Linked DNA regions of Homo sapiens: region 2 is linked to region 1. The links come from fine-mapping of genetic effects on gene expression. Tissue or cell type: whole blood. Region 1 holds a variant in brackets; the other region holds the start of a gene. All regions are shown on one strand. Distances are from middle to middle.

Region 1 (10,571 bases):
AATGCATGAATGGGGTCCTCATGGAAAGCCAAATGACATATGATTTAAGTTTTTGAGGTGTGGCTCAAATAGAAAAAGAATATCGTGGACCATTTGAGTCACCCCCAGGCACATGGCAAGTACAAGGCCTTCCAAACTCCCACGCCTCCTTGATGACAGTCTGTAGACATGAAGCTACAATTTTGTTTCAGCAAAACAGCATCATACATACTGTTTAATGATTAAACAGAATGCACTTCTGTTTGGAATGAATTAAAAATGCTGAGCCCGGCACAGTCGTTCACGCCTGTAATCTCAGCACTTTGGGAGGCTGAGGTGGGAGATCTCTTGAAGCCAAGAGTTCAAAAGCCTGGGCTGCAAAGCAAGACTCCATCTCTAAAATATAATAATAATAATAAATAAATTAGGCCGGTGTGGTGGCTCATGCCTGTAATCTGAGCATTTTGGGAGGCCAAGGCGTGCAGATCACATGAGGTCACTAGTTCAAGAACAGCCTGGCCAACATGGTGAAATCCCATCTCTACTAAAAATACAAAATTAGCTAGGTGTGTTGGTACATGCCTGTAGACCCAGCTAATCAGGAGGTTGGGGCAGAAGAATTGCTTGAACCTGGGATGGGGAGGTTGCAGTGAGCTGAGAACACGCCACTGCACTCCAGCCTGGGCAACAGAACAAAACTCTTTCTCAAAATAAAATTTAAAAAAAATAAAATAAATTAGCTGGCCACAGTGGTATATTCCTGTAGTTCCAGCTACTTGGGAGGCAGGAGGATCACTAGAGCCCAGGAGTTCAGGGCTATAGTGAGCCATCGTTGCGCCACTGCACTCCAGCCTGGGCAGCAGAGCAAGACCCTGTCTCAAAAAACAGAGGAAAGAAAAGAAAGGAAAAAATAGTAATCATACCTGACGTTAAATATGTTATTAATCTGAATTCTACGAGTTTTGTAGGCTTCTCTCTCCCCAATTTGCAATTTTATTGGCGATTTATAGTTTCCAAGGGCTAGACACATGGGCTTCTATTCCACATCTGGCTATATATTTGTGCCTATTGATGTTTCATTATTGAAATGAAAACCTGGTCATCATGGGAGTCTGGGCAATGTTTTACTACTTCCAAATCAGTTTCTGGCTGGAGAACCCCAGCTACAATGTCCCCATGTCCCTCAGGATGAAATCTTTTTTTTTTTTGAGGTGGAGTCTCGCTCAGTCGCCCAGGCTGGAGTGCAGTGGCGTGATCTCAGCTCACTACAAGCTCCGCCTCCCGGGTTCACAGCATTCTCCTGCCTCAGCCTCCCGAGTAGCTGGGACTACAGGCATCCGCCACCACACCCGGCTAATTTTTTGTATTTTTAGTAGAGACGGGTTTTCACCATGTTAGCCAGGATGGTCTCGATCTCCTGACCTCATGATCCACCCACCTCGGCCTCCCAAAGTGCTGGGATTACAGGAGTGAGCCACCGCGCCTGCCCAGGATGAAATCTTAATCCATGCATCATCATGCATGGGACGGGGTACACAACTGTGCAGAGCCCAGCCCAGTGCCATGTTCCCTCCACAGCAAGACTGTCACCTCACCCCCTCCCACCCTCCCCCGCAGCCCTTGCCCCTGCTGTTTCCTCTCCCTGCAGCCTTCCTCACTATCCACCCCAAGCCCCCCAGCTCAGAAGACATCCTTCTGATGCAGGCTTGCCCATGCACCCACTCACAGTGGGATCCCTGCAGCCCCCACTCCTGCCCGGGTCCTGCTTCCTCTAGCGCGACTCCCTGAGGGCTGCTTCCAGCACTTTCCAGCGGCTTCTGAGTGAAGGCTTATTTTGTGTTTGCTGAGTGAATGAGTAAACAGCAGCGATCAAAGGCCCACTAGCGTCTCTCAGGGGCCTGAGTTCCTTGCAAGCAGGAAAGCAAAAGATGCCTCCGCCCCAGGGTTTCAGATTCCTGGATTCCCCTTCAGCTTTCACTTTTGGTTGGGCTTCCCAGCCCAGTCAGTCGGACTGTGAAAGCACCTGCCCCGCAGTAGGCACGGGCAGGGCAAGAGGGCATCTTCTCAGGGGAGCCAGGTATGCCCCTTGGTCTGCCACCCATGCATCATATGCCCCTGTTCCCTGAGCCTCTGCTCCCCGCCCCTGGTCCACATACCCCCGCCCCGGTGCCCTTCACTCTGACCAGGCCCAGTGAGCTCCAGCCAGGAACCCCAGGGAGGAGTCCCCACCACCTGAGTCACTGCAGGCCATCCCAGGGGTCCTACTCGCCAGGAAGGGTTGACGCCCACGTACACATACACCTCTGGGCTCCTGGCACTCTGAGCTGTATGTTTCATTCTGGTTCATTCACCATTCATTCATTTACTCGGTAGATTCTTAGCAAAGGGCTACCAGCTCAGACCGGGAGTGGCCAGCTCTTCTCCCTCACCAATGCTCCCTCTCCCAGCAATGTTGTAAGGTTCAATGAGATGTGGTGTGGCGAGGTCTGGGGGTGACAGCCCAGGATAAACGTCACTAAATGTCATCATTGTTACTATTCTTAAGGAACTGCCTGTTTTAAAACAAGCAGCCTTAAAATTAAAGTGTAGGTATGGGGCCAGGCACAGTGGCTTACACCTGTAATCCCAGTACTTTGAGATGCCAAGGTCGGCATTTCACCTGAGGTCAGGAATTCAAGACCAGCCTGACCAACATGGTGAAACCCTATCTCTACTAAAAATACAAAAAATGAGCCAAGTGTGGTGGCGGGTACCTGTAATCCCAGCTACTTGGGAGGCTGAGGCAGGAGAATCACTTGAACTTGGGAGGCAGAGGTTGCAGTGAGGCAAGATTATACCACTGCACTCCAGCCAGGGCAATAGAACGAGACTCGGTCTCAAAAAAAAAAAAGGCCAGGCACAGTGGCTCACACCTGTAATCTCAACACTTTGGGAGGCCGAGGCAGGCCAACCACTTGAGGTCAGGAGTTCGAGACTAGCCCAGCCAACATGGTGAAACCCTGTCTCTACTAAAAATACAAAAACTAGCTGGGCATACTGGTGGACACCTGTAATCCCAGCTACTCAGGAGGCTGAGGAAGGAGAATCACTTGAACCTGGGAGGCGGAGGTTGCAGTGAGCCAAGATTGTGCCACTGCACCCCAGCCTGGGTGACACAGCAAGACTCTGTCTCAAAAATAAATAAATAAATAAATAAATAAATAAATAAAAGTGTTGTTATGGTAAATAAATAAATAAATAATAAAACAAACCCTGTGGCGGCAAGAAATACCAGATTTAATAAGGTAGATCTAATAGACTGAACTCTACTACTAAGAGGCATTGCGTGGCCAGGAGGCTGGCCTCAAGCCGCCACCTGGTTTTGAGTCTCAGCTCTTCTACTTAGTTTCACTTGCGTCCATGTAAAGAGACCACTAAACAGGCTTTGTGTGAGCAATAAAGCTGTTTATTTCACCTGGGTGCAGGCGAGCTGAGTCCGAAAAGAGAGTCAGCGAAGGGAGATAGGAGTGGGGCCTTTTTATAAGATTTGGGTAGGTAAAGGAAAATTACAGTCAAAGGGGGGTTGTTCTCTGGCGGGCAGGAGTGGGGGTCACAAGGTACTCAGTGGGGGAGCTTTTGAGCCAGGATGAGCCAGGAGAAGGAATTTCACAAGACAATGTCATCAGTTAAGGCAGGAACAGGCCATTTTCACTTCTTTTGTGGTGGAATGTCATCAGTTAAGGCAGGAACCGGCCATCTGGATGTGTACGTGCAGGTCACAGGGGATATGATGGCTTAGCTGGGGCTTAGAGGCCTGACATTCCTGTCTTTTTTTTTTTTTTTTTTTTGAGACGGAGTCTCGCTCTTTCGCCCAGGCTGGAGTGCAGTGGCGCTATCTTGGCTCACTGCAAGCTCCGCCTCCCGGGTTCACGCCATTCTCCTGCCTCAGCCTCCCAAGTAGCTGGGACTATAGGCGCCCGCCACGGCGCCCAGCTAATTTTTTGTATTTTCAGTAGAAACGGGGTTTCACCGTGTTAGCCAGGATGGTCTCGATCTCCGGACCTCGTGATCCGCCCGCCTCGGCCTCCCAGAGTGCTGGGATTACAGGCGTGAGCCACCGTGCCCGGCCTCTGTCTTCTTATATTAATAAGAAAAATAAAACGAAAGAGTGGTAAAGTGTTGGGATGGTGAAAATTTTTTGGGGATGGCATGGAGAGATAATGGGTGATGTTTCTTAGGGCTGCTTCAAGTGGGATTAGGGGCAGCGTGGGAACCTAGAATGGGAGAAATTAAGCTGAAGGAAGATTTTGTGGTAAGGGGTGATATTGTGGGGTTGTTAGAAGAAACATTTGTCGTGTAGAATTATTGGTGACGGCCTGGATATGGTTTTGTATGAATTGAAAAACTAAATGGAATAAGAGAAGGAGAAAAACGGGTATAAAAGGTCTAAGAATTGGGAGGACCTAGGACATCTGATTAGAGAGTGCCTAAGGAGATTCAGCATAGTCCGGTCAGCAAAGATTCTTTATTTACTTCAAGAGTTAAGAGTGGCAGTTTGGGGATAGCACCAGGAGATATCAGCTGTGATGGCTTGGAGAAACAGTGTAAACC[G/A]GCAGTGTAAACAAGAGCAGGGCATGTATGAGTAGTTGAGAACGGTGAATAGGAGTATGACTAGACAGAAGATAGTAGGGATGACAAGTTTTTTGGGGGCACGGTCTAAGTTGGTCTGGTGTCTGGAATAAGACTGGGGCCTAATAAAAAGGAGTGTCTCTACAGGAGCTCAAATGGGCTGCACCTTGTAGTATTCTGAGGACAGGTCTGACTTCTGAGAAGGGAAAGTGGTAAAAGTATTGTCCAGTCCTTTTTAAGTTGGTGGCTGAGCTTGGTGAGGTGTGTTTTTAAGACTATTAGTCTGTTCTACTTTTTCTGAAGACTGAGGACTGTAAGGGATATAAAGGTTTCACTGAATACTAAGAGCCTGAAAAAATGCTTGGCTGATTTGGCTAATAAAGGTGGGTCTGCTATCGGACTGTATAGAGGTGGGAAGTCCAAACTGAGGAATTATGTCTGACAGAAGGGAAGAAATGACCGCAGTGGCTTTCTCAGACCTTGTAGGAAAGGCCTTTACTTATTCAGTGAAAGTGTCTACTTAGACTAAGAGGTATTTTAGTTTCTTGACTCGGGGCATGTTGAGTAAAGCTAATTTGTCAGTCCTGGGTGGGGGCAAATCCTTGAGCTTGATGTGTAGGGAAGGGAGGGGGCCTGAATAATCCTTGAGGAGTAGTAGACTAGCAGATGGAACGCTGAGAAGTTATTTCCTTGAGGATAGATTTCTACGATGGAAAGGAAATGAGAGGTTCTAAAAGGCAGGCTAGTGGCTTGTACTATAGCATAGCCTGTCTTTGCTGGTGTGTGGCGAGTAGGCCTGGTGGAACTGCCATCAATAAACTAAGTGTGATCAGGGTGAGAAACAGGGAAGAAGGAAATGTGGGGAAATGAGGTGAACATCAGCTGGATCAGAGAGATGAAGGAGCCGGGGAGCAGAAAGTATATGCATCAGGTGTGAGGAAGAAAATAGATTTTGGAAATTATGAGAGCTGTAGAGAGTGAGTTGAGCATAGTTTGTGATTTTAAGGGCCTCTGAAAGTATTAGGGTCAGTAGCCACTGCACAGAGACATGATGGCCAGCCTAAAACAGTAAGGTCAAGTTGTTTGGGCAAAAAGGCTACAGGACGCGATCCTGGTCCTTGTGTAAGAATTCCAACTGCACAGCCCTGCACTTTGGCTGTGTGTAATGCAAAGGGTTGGGATGAGTCAGGGAGAGCTCAGGTGGGGGCAGTCTCTAAAGCTGTCTTCAAGGAACAGAAAAAGGAGTGGGGAAAGGATTTAGGATCTGTGGGGTCAGCTAGGTTTCTTTTTGTGAGTTTATATAATGATTTTGTTAGGATGGCAAAACCAGGTATCTAAAGTTGAAAGTATCTAACCATGCCTAGGTTGTAGAAGGTGTTGGGGTTTGAGAGATCAGTCAGACACGATCGGCAGGGAGAGCGCGTGTGTTTTTATAAGAATTACGCCAAGACAGATAACAGATGAGGAAGAAATTTGGGCTTGACTGAAGTAATGGGGGCTGTCTGTGAAGCCTTGCAGCAGTACAGCCCAGGTAATTTGCTGAGCCTAATGGGTGTCAGGGTCAGTCTAAGTGAAAGCAAAGGGAGGCTGGGATGAAGGGTGCAAAGGAATAGTAAAGAAAGCATGTTTGAGATCCAGAACAGAATAATGGGTTGTAGAGGGAGGTATTGAGGATAGGAGAGTATATGGGTTTGGCACCACGGGGTGGATAGGCAAAACAATTTGGTTGATAAGGCGCAGATTCTGAACTAACCTGTAAGGCTTGTCTGGTTTTAGGACAGGTAAAATGGGGGAATGGTAAGAAGAGTTTATAGGCTTTAAAAGGCCATGCTCTAACAGGCAAGTGATAATAGGCTTTAATCCTTTCAAAGCGTGCTGTGGGATAGGATATTGGCATTGAGCGGGGTAAGAGTGATTAGGTTTTAATGGGATGGTAAGGGGTGCATGATCGGTCGCCAAGGAGGGAGTAGAGGTGTCTTATACTTGTGGGTTACGGTGGGGAGATACAAGGGGAGGATGTGAAGGAGGCTTTGAACTGGGGGAAAAGGTGGCAATGAGGTGTGGATGTAGCCTAGGAATAGTCAGGGAAGCAGATAATTTAGTTAAAGTGTCTCCGCCTAATAAGGGAACTGGGCAGGTGGGGATAACTAAAAAGGAGTGCTTAAAAGAGTATTGTCTAAGTTGGCACCAGAGTTGGGGAGTTTTAAGAGGTTTAGAACCTGGCTGTCAATATTTACAACAGTTATGGAGGCAAGGGAAACAGGCCCTTGAAAAGAAGGTAATGTGGAGTGGGTAGCCTCCGTATTGACTAAGAAGGGGATGGACTTACTTTCCACTGTGAGAGTTACTTAGAGTGTCTGTGATGGTCCTGTAGGCTTCCAAGGCGATCGGCAGTGCCAGTCTTCAGCTGCTAAGCCAAGAAGATCTGGGAAGGAGTCAGACGGCCTTGGGCCAGAGTTCCAGGGGCTCTGGAAGTGGCTGCCAGGTGAGTTGAACAGTCCAATTTTCAGTGGGGTCCTGTACAGATGGGACATGGCTCAGGAGGAATCCTGGGCTGTGGGCACTTGTAGCAAGCTCCTGGGGGAGGAGGTTCTGGAGGAACCCCTGGCAGCTGCGGTTCAGGCGTTTGGAGTTCTTGTGTGCTGGAGATGTGGCTGGGGTTTGTCTCACAGTGGAGGCAAAGAGTTGCAACTCAGAAATATGTTGCTACTTGGCTGCCTCCACTCTATTATTGTACACCTTGAAGGTGAAGTTAATTAAGTCCTGCTGTGGGGTTTGAGGGCCAGAATTTAACTTTTGGAGTTTTATTTAATGTCGGGAGCAGACTGGGTAATAAAATGTATATTGAGAATAAGACGGCTTTTTGACTTTTTAGGGTCTAGGGCTGTAAAGCGTCTCAGGGTTGCCGCCAAACGAGCCATGAACTGGGCTGGGTTTTTCATATTTGATGAAAGAGCCTAAACGCTCACTGATTTGGGAGAGGTCTGATAAAGAAAAATGAGTATTAACCTTGACTATGCGTTTGGCTTCAGCCACCTTTTTAAGAGGAAATAGCTAGGCAGGTGGGGGAGGGCTAGTCATGGAATGAAACTGTAAGCCGGACTGGGTGTGAGGAGGGGAGGTGATAAAAGGATTATACGGTGGAGGAGCAGAGGCTGAGGAAGAATTGGGACCTAGCTCGGCCTAGTGAGGAGGGGAGAGGTCAGATGGGTCTGTAGAAAAGGAAGATTAGAAAAACTCAGCGACACTTGGGGTTGGGACTGAGGAGACAGGCAGGAGGGAAAGAAGGAAGATTTGGGACTAGTTGCACTGGGCAGAGAGACTAGGGAGGGACAGATGTGTAAAAGAATGCCTGGACGTCAGGCACCTCAGACCATTTGCCTATTTTTCGACAAAAATTATTTAGGTCTTGTAGGATGGAGAAATCGAAAGTGCCGTTTTCTGACCATTTAGAGCCATTGTCAAGTTTGTATTGGGGTCAAGCGGCATTGTAGAAGAAAGTAAGGCATTTAGGTTTTAGGTCAGGCAAGAGTTGAAGAGGTTTTATGTTCTTAAGAACACAGGCTAAGGGAGAAGAAGGAGGAATGGAGGGTGGAAGGTTGCCTATAGTGAAGGAGGCAAGTTTAAAGAAAAGGGAGAGTAGAGACATGGAGGGAAGCGGTTCGGGGGTTCTTACCTTCCAGAAAAGCAGGAAAGGGGTCGGGGCACAGAGATACGAGGTTGGGGCACGGAAATAAGGGAGCAGGGTGCAGAGATATAAGAGGTTGGGGCACAGAAATAAGGGATTGGGGCACAGAGATATAAGAGGTCGGAGCGTGGAAATAAGGGATCGGGGCGCAGAGATACAAGGTTGGGGTACATGCCCCTCCCCCAGAAAAATGGGACTTGCTGCTAAGGGTGAAGGAGAAGGGGCTGGGGGTTTCTTGCCTTACAGAAAGGTGGAGAAGGGGTAGAGACATGAAGAGAAGGGGTTGGGGTACTTGCCCCTCCCCTAGAAAAGTGGGACTTGCTGCTAAGAGTGAAGAAGAAGGGGTTGGGGATTTCTTGCCCTCCAGAAAGGTGGAGAAGGGGTAGAGACACAGAGAGAAGGGGTTGGGGTACTTGCCCCTCCCCCAGAAAAGCGGGACTTGCCGCTATGGGTGAAGGACCAAGGCAGGCGTCCTTGCGTGGTCTGACACCTCTGAAACATGGGTGAATAATCAGAGAGGTGTCCTTGCAATGATTAAACACCAAGGGAAGGCTGCCTTCCTAGTCCGTGACCAGTGCTGGAGTTTTGGGTCCACGGATAAAACGTGTCTCCTTTGTCTCTACCAGAAAATGAAAGGAATTGAAATTAAAAGAAGGGAGAGATTGAAGTGTGGCGCCAAGATTGAAAGGAGAAACAGGTTGAGGGATAGTGAGGGAGGTTGGAGAAGAGAGTAAAAAGAGGCTGCTTACCGGATTTGAAATTGGTGAGATGTTTCTTGGGCTGGTTGGTCTGAGGACCTGAGGTCATAGGTGGATCTTTCTCACAGAGCAAAGAGCAGGAGGACAGGGGATTGATCTCCCAAGGGAGGTCCCCCGATCCGAGTCACGGCACCAAATTTCACTCACGTCCGTGTGAAGAGACCACCAAACAGGCTTTGTGTGAACAATAAAGCTGTTTATTTCACCAGGGTGCAGGTAGGCTGAGTCCGAAAAGAGAGTCAGTGAAGGGAGATAAGGGTGGGGCCGTTTTATAGGATTTGGGTAGATAAAGGAAAATTACAGTCCAAGGGGGGTTGTTCTCTGGCAGGCAGAGTAGGGGTCACAAGGTGCTCAGTAGGGGAGATTTTGAGCCAGGAGAAGGAATTTCACAAGACAATGTCATCAGTTAAGGCAGGAACAGGCCATTTTCACTTCTTTTGTGGGAGAATGTCATCAGTTAAGGCAGGAACCGGCCATCTGGATGTGTACATGCAGGTCACAGGGGATATGATGGCTTAGCTAGGGCTTAGAGGCCTGACACTTAGCATCTGTGTAAACTTAGACAAGTAAACCCATCCACAAAATGGATGATTACAGTAGCTACCTAGAAGGGATGTTGTGAGGATTCTGTGACTTGTTTGTAAACTACAGAGTAAGTACACCAGTAAAGATGTGTTCAGCCTCTCTTGTTACAGGTGTGATCACACCATCATGATGTGATTTTGTAACAGGATGATTTTGTAACACGATGACATTTTGTAACAGACACAGAGCCAGGGACAATACCACTGAGCTGCTGAAGCAACCCGCCCTGCTTCTGGCCTCCAAGTCACATGAGCTAATACTTTAAAAAAAAAAAAAAAAGCATTATACGGGCCAGGCACAGTGGCTCACACCTGTAATCCCAGCACTTTGGGAGGCCGAGGTGGGCAGATCACTTGAGGTCAGGAGTTCCAGACCAGCCTGGCCAACGTGGTGAAACCCTGTCTCTACTAAAAACACAAAAATTAGCCAGGCATGGTGGCAGATGCCTGTAATTCAACCTGGGAGGCTGAGGCAAGAGAATCACTTGAACCCAGGAGGCAGAGGTTGCAGTGAGCCAAAATTGAGACACTGCACTCCAGCCTGGGTGACAAAACAAGACTCTCAAAAAAAAAAAAAGTATTATACAAGACAACAGATTCACCAAGGTCAACGTGAAAGAAAAAAAATATCAAAGGCAGCTAGAGAGAAGTGTCAGGTCACTTACAAAGGGAACCCCATCAGGCTAGAAATGGACCTCTCAGCAGAAACTTTACACACCAGAAGAGATCAGGGGCTGTTTTCAGCATCCAAAGAAAAGAAATTCCAATCATTTCAAGAATTCCAAGAATTTCATATCCCACCCAACTAAGTATCATAAGCAAAGGATAAATAAAATCTGTCTCAGAAAGCAAATGCTAAGGGAATTCATTACCACTAGACCAGCCTTATAAGAGGTCCTTAAGGGAGTGCTAAACACAGAAACTAAAGAAGGATACCAGCCAAGCATGGTGACT
Region 2 (10,571 bases), 54 kb after region 1:
GTCTCAGTATTTTCAACTGTAAAAGGATGCAGGATATACTTGTGAGGATTTGGGGAGTTAGATGGGTTAAAGATTTTTTGTAAAATGCTCTGGAAATTGTAAAATGCTCTGTAATTTTCTTATTATCACTTCATCCAGAGGTGTCCGTGTCCGTGCTCTTCGGACTGACCTGAACAAACCAAGTCATAGTCACTGATGGACCAATTTTCTTTCTTTTTTTTTTTTAGAGATGAAGTCTCACTCTGTCGCCCAGGCTGGAGTGCAGTAGCACAATCTCGGTTCACTGCAACCTCCGCGTCCCGGGTTCAAGCGATTCTTGTGCCTCTCAGCCTCCCAAGTACTGGGATTACAGGCGAGTGTTACCACGCTTGATTAATTTTTGTATTTTTTTTGTAGAGACCGTGTTATGCCATGTTGGCCAGTCTGGTCTCAAAATCCTGACCTCAAGTGATCCACCCGCCTCAGCCTCCCGAAGTGCTAGGATTACAGGCGTGAGCCACCGCGCCTGGCCAATGGACCAATTTTTAATTAATCGGTTTACCATGAGGCATCGAACTGCCATGGAAACCAGAACACTCAGGCCAATGATCTCCCCAGCTTATGGCCACTAGGGGCTCAGTTTTCTCATCTGCAAAATGGAAAGAATACAGGCATAGCCATGGGGAGAACTATTTTTTTTTTTTTTTTGAGATGGAGTCTCACTCTGTCGCCCAGGCTGGAGTGCAGTGGCACCATCTTGGCTCATTGCAACCTCCGCCTCCCAGCCCTGGAGAACTATTTTAAGAATGAAATGGTGGCCAGGGGCGGTGGCTCACACCTGTAATCCCAGCACTTTGGGAGGCCGAGGTGGGTGGATCATCTGAGGTCAGGAGTTTGAGAGCAGCCTGACCAATATGGTGAAACCTTGTCTCTACTAAAGATACAAAAATTAGCTGGGCGTGGTGGCGCATGCCTGTAATCCCAGCTACTCAGGAGGCTGAGGCAGGAGAATCATTTGAACCTGGGAGGCAGAGGTTGCAGTGAGCTGAGATCGTGCCACTGCATTCCATCCTGGGCGACAGAGTGAGACTTCATCTCGGAAAAAAAAAAGAATGAAATGAGATGAATAAGTAAAATGGTAGCTCTTGGCCCTGGGAATTGAATTATTTCGGCTGCACTGCAGACCAACTGGTAAAATGTTTTCTCTTCAGTTGTTCCTTAAAGAGGCCACTCCTTGATCACAACGACGTGGGGACAGGACGGGGAATTGAGAGCCCTGGGTTCACTCAAGGCTCCACCTCCAGCTCTGCCCCAAACTCTCTGAGTGTCTACAGGGAAATCTGTTTTGCATCTCTGGGTTTCAGCTCCCTTCTCTTAAAGGAACGACCACATCCTCCACCATCTACTGCCCTAGGGCTCCTCCAGCTCAGACCTCCCCCTGAACTGTGTTGTCACAGCACTCATTCATTAGGTGGCTTTACATGTTCTGGGTAGATTTGGGCACATCCTGATCTCTATGATTGAGGTCAGACCACAACGATCCCCGCAGGAACCTCCTTCTTAAGCCGCTTACATCTCTGGAGTGGAGAGGTGTCCTGAGTGATGCTCATGGTTGACAACTAACTGCATCATCCAGGCACCTTCTAGAGAGCAGAGGCTGGCTGACCTCCACCGCAGCCACATTTGCAAACATGAAACCCCAGGAGTAGTGATAAATTCTCTGCTCCCTCCTCACTCCTTCTATCATAATTTCTTTATCAAGTCTTTTACAGAAGAACTGGAGTGAAAACATTTTCCATCTTCACTGTTTTCCTGACAGAGCCTTGGGTGACAGCATGTCACCCAAGCTCTGAGAAATGTTTTCCAGATAAATACTTCTGGGAAGTAGTTTAGCTGGGTGGTATGAGTAAATCCATCTGAAAGTCATGTTAGCTTCCTGAAAGCAGTTCTCCATGGTTCTCACTTGTCCAGATTGAATTTTAATGAACATTTATTGGAGGTTTTCCTATTGATTATAATAATGACGCACATTCATGATAAAGTATCTAGAAAATAAAGACTAGCAAAATGAAAGAAATGCAGCTTCCAACCACAATCCCACTTAAAGATAACCACCGCGAACATTCTGATGGATCTCCTTCCAAGAATATATACATATATATATGCGGGAAGTGGGGAAAGATAAAGAACTAATTGACTACAGTAACAATATTTTCTTATGTAGACATATGTTTTTCTTTCATAATTTGAAACTTAAAATTTAATTTCTCATTTCAAGAATAGTTCATGTCATATAAAACTCATTTTATTAAAAATGTATCACCTTAACATTCTAGAGTTATTCATCTACAAGGTAAATTTTACATAATACATTCTTAATCTAAACACAGACTGTTTTCTTTTTCAAATTGGGGTTCACACTCTGTATACTTGTTTGAATTTGCTTTTTTAAAAAAGTTTTTGTTTATGTATAAAAATTAAGGCATACTCTACATATTAATGTACAGTTATTTGACAAACGTATATAGTAATGTAACTACCACCACAATCATGATATATGTAGTTATCTAAAATATGACTGTGGGCCAGGTGCGGTGGCTCACACCTGTAATCCTAGCACTTTGGGAGGCTGAGGTGGATGGATCACCTGAGGTCAGGAGTTCGAAACCAGCCTGTCCAACATGGTGAAACCCAGTCTCTACTAAAAATACAAAAATTAGCCAGGTGTGCCTGTAATCCCAGCTACCCAGGAAGCTGAGGCAGGAGAATCTCTGGAACCCCAGGAGGCGGAGGCTGCAGTGAGCCGAGATCACCCCACTGCACTCCAGCCTGGGCGACGGGGCAAGATTCAGTCTCAAAAAAAATGACTGTGAATGTCACCAAGTTTTCTGTCATTTGGAAGTGCAATAATTTAACCAATCTTGTTTTCTTGGCCATTTAGGTTGTTTACGATTTCCCCCTTACTGATTTTGCGATCTGGGGGAATGAAATAATAAATGAATTAAAATGAATGAGGGCCATGAGTGGTGGCTCATGCCTGTAATTCCAGCACTTTGGGAGGGTGAGGTGGGAGGATTGCTTGGGCTCAGGAGTTTGAGACCATCCTGGGCAACATGGTGAAACCTCTTTTCTACCAAAAATACAAAAAAGTTAGCCAGGCATGGTGGTCTGCGCTGGTAGTCCCAGCTACTTGTTGGGGAGCTGAGGTGAGATGACTGATGGGCCTGGGAGGTAGAGGCTGCAGTAAACTGTGTTCGAACCACTATATCCCAGCCTAGGTGACTACATGAGACCCTGTCTCAAAAAAAAAAAAAAAAAGAGAGAGAAAAAGAACAAAGGAAGGGTAAGGGGAGGGGAGGGAGGGAGAGAGAGAGAGGAAGGAAGGAAGGAAGGAAGGAAGGAAGGGAGGAAGGAAGGAAGGAAGGAAGGAAGGAAGCAAGGAAGGAAGGAAAAAGAAAGAAAAGAAAGAAATAAAATGAAATTCAGAATTCTCATTTTCCTGGAGCTATACCAACTGGGTGTCTCCCTTCTCCGCTGGAAAAATCCCACATCATTCAAGACCCAGCTCAGATATTGCCTCCTCTATGAAGCCCCCATGATGCCAGCTGGAGAGCGGGTTCCTCCCTTCCCTGTGATTCCACAGCACCAAGTCACACACTGTTTACGGGACAGACATTGCAATAGTCTGTTTTTCTTCTCTTTCTCCAGACTGTGAACTCATACTAGAAGTGATGTCTTAGCTCTGCGTTCCCAAGACCTAAGCCATGCTTGGCTCATACATGCTGCACAAATATTCATGAAATGAATGAACATTCTACCCTGCCGAACTAAATTTTGATCTTGAGCCGATTTTTCTTTTTTTTTTTTTTTTTGAGATGGAGTCTCGCTTTGTTGCCCAGGCTGGAGTGCAGTGGCGCGATCTCGGCTCGCTGCAAGCTCCGTCTCCCGGGTTCACGCCATTCTCCTGCCTCAGCCTCCCGAGTAGCTGGGACTACAGGCGCCTGCCACCACGCCCGGCTAATTTTTTGTATTTTTAGTAGAGACAGGGTTTCACTGTGTTAGCCAGGATGGTCTCGATCTCCTGAACTCGTGATCCGCCTACCTCGGCCTCCCAGAGTGCTGGGATTACAGGCGTGAGCCACTGCGCCCGGCCTTGAGCCGATTTCTTAGAAAACAGACACTTTATGAGCATGGTGCAAACATAAGCTGGCTGCATTAAGCAGGTACCCCTAAGGAGAGCTGGAAATTTGCTGGTTTCAGACAGTGGTTCAGGGGAACTTGGGAGTTGTGCAGAATTGCTGGGGTGTGGAGAGGTACAGGGTACTTGCAGAACACCTCATCTAAGCGATCAACTTTACAATTTTATTATTTTTGAGACAGAGTCTCGCTTTGGCACCCAGGCTGGAATGCAGTGGCACAATCACAGCTCACTGCAGCCTCGACCTCTCAGGCTCAAGCGATCCTCCCACCTCAATCCCCCAAGTACCTGGGACTACAGGTGTGGCCCACCTTGCTGGACTAATTTTTAATTTTTTGTATAGACATGGGTCTCGATATATTGCCCAGGCTCAAGCAATCCTCCCACGTTGGCCCCCCAGCGTGCTGGGATTACAGACGTGAGCCACTGCACCTGGCCAATGTTTTTTTTTTTTTTTTTTTTCTGAGACAGAGCCTCGCTTTGTCTCCCAGCCTGGAGCGCAGTGGCATGATCTCCTCATTGCAACCTCCACCTCCCAGGTTCAAGCTATTCTTCCACCTCAGCCTCCTGAGTAGCTGGGATTACAGATGCCCGCCACCACACCCGGCTAATTTTTGTATTTTTAGTAGGGATAGGGTTTCACCATGTTGGCCAGGCTGGTTTTGAACTCCTGACCTCAAGTGATCTGCCCACCTGGGTCTCCCAAAGTGCTGGGATTACAGGCTTGAGCCACCGCACCCGGCCTCACCTGGCCATTTTTACACTTTTAAAATAGCAAGAAACTAGGGGCAAAAAGTACATATTCATATCTATGTGTAGTCAGTCAATAAATATTTATTGAATGAACGAATAAATTAATGGAAGGTGTTCCAGATCCTGGTAGGCGAGAGTCAGTCGGAGGGAGTGCTTGTTCTTGGTGCACTCACAATGGAGAATCAAGGAATTCACCTTGGACGGGCTCATTTCTCCCTCTCCTAGGCCCCGTGCAGCCTCTTCTCAGACTTACTAGTTCTGAGGGGCTCCTGGCTGCCTCACACCAACAGCAGTGGCCAGTGGACACTGGCGATGGTGTCCTGACATTTTGGTTTGTGAAGAGTTTGTGCTCCGAGTCAAATCCTGGGAGGAGTGGGGAGGGCATCCGCTTTAATTAATTAGAGGTGTCTCTATTCATCTCCGTATCTGCAACATCTAGCACAAGACTTGGCCCATAGTAGATGTTTAAAAATTCTTGCTGAGGCCGGGCGCAGTGGCTCACGCCTGTAATCCCAACACTTTGGGAGGCTGAGGCGGGCAGACCACCTGAGGTCAGGAGTTCGAGACCAGCTCGACCAACATGTAGAAATCCCGTCTCTACTAAAAATACAAAATTATCTGGACTTGGTGGCGTGCGCCTGTAATCCCAGCTACACGGGAGGTTGAGGCAGGAGAATCACTTGAACCCGGGAGGCAGAGGTTGCAGTGAGCCGAGATGGCGCCATTGCACTCCAGCCTGGGTGACAAGAGTGAAACAACGTCTGGAAAAAAAAAAAAACTTGCGGAAAAGATGAAATGACCAAGACTCGCGCAGTGCTGCCCGTCAGGCTCTCAACTAGTCGCTCTTCACATCTGATTCATGTCTTAAAGCAGCCTCGCAGGTAGGTCTGCATCATTTTCCCATCCTACATCGGAGGCGCTGAAGCCCAGGCGGGTTTCCCGAGTCGCCCGGGCCCACGCTGCAGAGTGAAAGCCACAGCGGCAAAGCCTGCACTCTGGACGCTGCGCCGGGACGTCCCCAGGTGCGGCAGGCAGCGCTCCGTAAGTGGGTCCTGGCGGGAACTCCGTCCTTCTGAACCCAGATCAGGCCCAGGGAGACCGTAGGGGCGCCGCGGCGGGCGGGGTCTGGGTCCTCGGTGGTGACTGAAGCCTCGGTTCGCTCTTCTGCAAGGTGCGAATCCAGAGCCTCCAGCTCGGGAGGGACCTGACGTGCCGGACGCGTCCAGCTCAGAACTCGAGGCGCGGTAGACACTCAGCAAAGGCCTCCGGCGTCCCTGCAGCCGTGGGGGGAAACTGGGGACGCCCGGAGGAAGACGCTGACCCGGCGAGCACCTGAGCGCCCACCTGTGGCTCATCCCGGAGACCGCCCCCTCCCCCGCGACCCGGGCGGGGCCTGGGGGGCGTGGCTCCCGTCTCGCTCAGCCAATCAGTGCCCCGGGGCCGCCTCCCGCCCCCTCCTGAGGAGACAGCGCTTGCGTACTCGGGCCAAGGTGCTCCTCGGGCCCCGCCCCCGGGGCGGTGCTGACGCTCGCGCCGACGCGCTCGACGTCGGGCACGTAGACGCCGGCGCCGCGCAGCCGGGCCCGCTCCTCCTCCGCTCCGCCAGTGTCCGGCCGCGGGCCGGCCTTAGTGACTGGGGCGGCGGGCCCCGGGGCCGCGGCGTGGGGCGGGCAGGCGGACGCCGGCCGCGGGCTGCTTTCGTCGGCTCCCAAGCTCTCCCGGAGCGAGCAGCCGCCCGCGAGCCGCCGCGGAGCCTCCTCGCCCGCTCCCGCCGGCGAGCAAGGTAAGGGAGCGGGACACTGAGGCAGGCTCGGGGCCCAGGCGTCACCGGCGCGTCCCGGTCTCCGCGGCGGCCACGCAGCCGATTAGATGTCTCCGCGGGGAAGGGTGCGCTCCGGGACGGGTGGGGGCGAGGCCGCGGCGCCGGGTCGCGCTGGGAGAGCTCCGGCGGGACACCCGCGCCCCAAGGGACGGCTCCGGGGACTGCGCGCTGCCCCTCCCCGAGCCCCGCGCCCCGTGACCCGGGCGCTGGGGCGAGGGGCGGGGACCTGTGGCCGCTGAAAGCCCTGGCCCGAGCGGGCTCCGTTGTCAACGGTCCTCACCCCCCGGGGTTCGGGGCTTCCGCCGCACCTGATACAGGAGGGGAGGAGTGCGGCTCGAGCAGGCTGGAGGTCACCATCCCCATCAGGTGCGCCGTCTGGGGCATCCCCCTCTCAGGGGTCCACCGCGCCCCCAGTACTGCCCGAAAGGCTCAGAAGCGACTTCCCCTTTCCCTGGCGCTGTCTTTATATCCCAGACACTTAATAGACTCTCGTAATCTCACCTTTCACTTTTCCCTCTTTCCTAGCCGCCCCCGGCTGTATCGACCTGCTATATTTCCATTGTGGATTTTTTTTTTCGGTTGTAAACTTACGTAAGTTAGGTTGACCAACCGTTGCAGCCATTGGAAAACACTTCTACCAGCGTTTAACGAATCCGGTTCCTTTTAGTGCTCACCAAATCCAGCCCAAGAATTCAGGGAGCCGTCAGTTCTTCCCGGGAGCTGACTGCACACATTCCTGCAAGATGCCTGATGGATTTTGTACTTGTCAGTTTTGCTGGTTGTATGCTCCTTCTGTGCTTTTCCTGAAAAATGATTGGGTGACATGTGTTTTGACTTTCTCCCCCCCTACCCCCCCACCCTCCCCACCCCACTGGGAAGTAAAAAAAATAGGTAACAGAAGCACACTTGTTTTCAGCAAAAACAAGTACAGCTTTGCAAACAGACTACCCCAGGGCTTGCCCTTTTTTGTGAGGGTAGTCCTTTGGGATCTTGACCCCTTCCCTGGATTTTTGTCTGTGTTAATGTCTTCATGTTGTGTATTTTTGCACTTAATATTTGCCCTGTGTATGTTTTCCCAGCTTATTTACACACAAAGCATAACAGATCTGAGCATAATGAGACTGCCCATCTTTTTAGCTACAGATACCTGTAAAGTTGCATATTTGTGGGAACCTGTATTCTGAGCTTAATTACTGTAGCCTGGGTCTTTCATTTCAAGATGATGTGCGAGGTGATGCCGACCATCAGCGAAGCAGAAGGCCCCCCTGGAGGAGGTGGAGGCCATGGTTCCGGCTCCCCTTCACAGCCAGATGCAGATTCACATTTTGAACAGTTGATGGTCTCCATGCTAGAAGAAAGGGACCGCCTTCTTGATACACTGAGAGAGACTCAAGAAACGCTGGCCTTAACCCAGGGGAAGTTACACGAGGTTGGTCATGAAAGAGATTCCTTGCAGAGACAGCTCAACACGGCACTTCCACAGGTATGAGTGCTTTTAACCTGAAACTATAGATTTTTCTCCACTAAATGTTTTTTTATTAGTGTCATCTTTTGTTAATGTTTCAGATGAGTATTTTCCGTAACGATTTGTGAAATGATAGTTTCTGGTGTTTGTAAGTCAAATACAAAGTTCCTAGGGATTAAACTTCTTAGGGAGAACAAATCGTTGTACTCTAAAGTCATGTGAAAATACCTCATTATTTTCATTCCTATCTTTGGGAACTGCCTAGGTTCAGGAAGTTCTCCAGAGTTTTTGAAAAAGGGCTCTGAAGCAACCAATCTATTTGGTGCCTCCATTCTGTTGTCTTAAGCCTTTTCTGGCTAAACTTGTACTTCCCATGGATTATCTCATGTATTTCTAATTTCCTAATGTAATTTAATAGACAAATAGGATTGATTTCACGGAAAAAAAAAATTATTTTGATAGCCCACCTTTATCAGAACATCTAGGTTTTGTAAGTCACATTTGTTTTAGGGGATAGAAGACTCGAGATTGATTCCTTAGGAACTTTTTCCTTGGCAGATGAGAATTTTAAAGCTTAGGCCGGGTGTGGTGGCTCATGCCTGTAATCCCAGCACTCTGGGAGGCTGAGGCAGGCGGATCACCTGAGGTCAGGAGTTTGAGACCAGCCTGGCCAACATGGCAAAACCCTGTCTCTACCAAAAATACAAAAATTAGCAGAGCGTGGTAGCGCGCATCTGTAGTCCCAGCTACTCAGAGGCTGAGGCATGAGAATCACTTGAACCCGGGAGGTGGAGGTTGCAGTGAGCCAAGATTGCACCACTGCTCTCCAGCCTGTCTCAAAAAAAAAAAAGATTTTTAAAGCTTAGAACAACTGAAATTGTTTCTCTGAGTATGTTACATTTGGACCAGTGTTTGAAAGACTTTGCTCATGGAGTTGAATGAGGATTTACTTAATGGTAGGTAAAGGGAGAAAGTAAAAACTAGAAGAGTGTAAGGTGAGTGGCACGGGGCATAGTGGGAGAGAAGTGGGTTATTTATGTGTTTCAGAGCTGTCTAGGCGCCACGTTACTCATCATAAGTGCCTTTGGGGTGCATTCAGGTAGACCCGCATAAGCACACATTTATACTCGCATGATGGGTCTGCAGTGATAAATTAGTAAATGAATAAGTACTAGCCTTAATGTGTTTCTTGGCTGTAGTCAGTTCTCCTGAAAGATTGATAAGCCAAACGTGGGTTTCCTTTTTAGCAACAATAATTTGACGTTAGCGCTCTATGTTCCTTTTTTGTTGGATTAAAGAATCATTAAGATTTTTCTTATTTCAATCTTATAAATTACCAAGTTTATTTATGTTGAATTTTATTACTACAATTTTAAAAGAAGTAGCCAATTTATGTTTTACCAGGATTTTATTGTATTTGTAATTTAAGGTACACGTATTGAAGTGTATATCAAATACTAATATACTTAATAAGGTAGGTTTTGGAAAGAATGGGCACACAAGACATGTCAGGGAAGTGACAGGAGTTTTGTACAGTTAGTCGCAGGCTGTGGAGGTTGTCACACACACTGGTGACATGGTTGCTCAGTGATTTGTTTCTGGCACTGCTCAGTGTAGCAGCCTGGGAATGCCTAGTTCAGTGGATAACATGATGATGCCAACGGTTCACGTTACCACCTGAGCACCTGATTCCAGCCTTTCAAAAATGGAAACTATTAAGTAAACTTGTTTTGGACCCTTCCCTTTCCTGGCATCTGGTTCATCTTTGGTGGCTGGTAGTGTGACCAGATAATGAGTCCAGGAAGTGCATTTGTGCTCCTGGCACATTGTGGAGGCAAGTTAGAGTGTACTTAAAAATATACATAACTATAGCATACAGCAGAAAAATTCACAAATCGTAAGTATACATCTCAGTGGACTTTTCACAAAGTTAACACACTTGCATACCACCACCCAGATCAAGAAATGGAACATTATCAGGCTTCCTAGAAGTCCCCTCCTAACTATTCCCAGTAGTTGTCCCCCAGAGCTAACCAAGGTCTTGACCTTTCACCATTGATTACTTTTGCCTGTTCTTGACTTTGTTTAAGTGAAGTAAAATAATCTGTATGTTTTGCTTCTTCATTCTGTCGTCAGCATCATGTTTGTGAGATGCAGCTTGCTCATTCTCACCTGCTCTCTGGTCATCCCGTGCACGAACAGACAGAACTTATTCTTTCTACTGCTCACAGACATTTGGGGTTGTTTCCAGTTTTTACACGTGCTCCCCTAATATTGTTTGTTTTTTGGTGCAGATGTCTATAAACTTTTTTTTTTTTGAGATAGGGTCTCACTCTGTTGCCCAGGCTGGAGTG

What was found. PIP is the estimated chance that this variant, and not a neighbour inherited with it, causes the effect.
Region 2: PPFIA1 starts here. The variant in region 1 is fine-mapped to the expression of PPFIA1 in whole blood (TOPMed, PIP above 0.99).

What each region holds. Positions count from the first base shown.
Region 1 is chr11:70,210,584-70,221,154 of GRCh38, forward strand. It overlaps LOC124902705 (a long non-coding RNA gene), which reads right to left and starts at 1,889. Exons shown (of 3, transcript XR_007062761.1): 1 at 1,706-1,889. RefSeq lists enhancers at 2,216-3,025, 3,026-3,835, 3,836-4,643, 9,186-9,886. The variant G/A (reference allele first, on the strand shown) is at 4,570.
Region 2 is chr11:70,264,202-70,274,772 of GRCh38, forward strand. It overlaps PPFIA1 (PPFI scaffold protein A1), which reads left to right and starts at 6,489. Exons shown (of 28, transcript NM_003626.5): 1 at 6,489-6,713; 2 at 7,972-8,235. The coding sequence starts at 7,972. RefSeq lists silencers at 6,074-6,623, 6,664-7,093.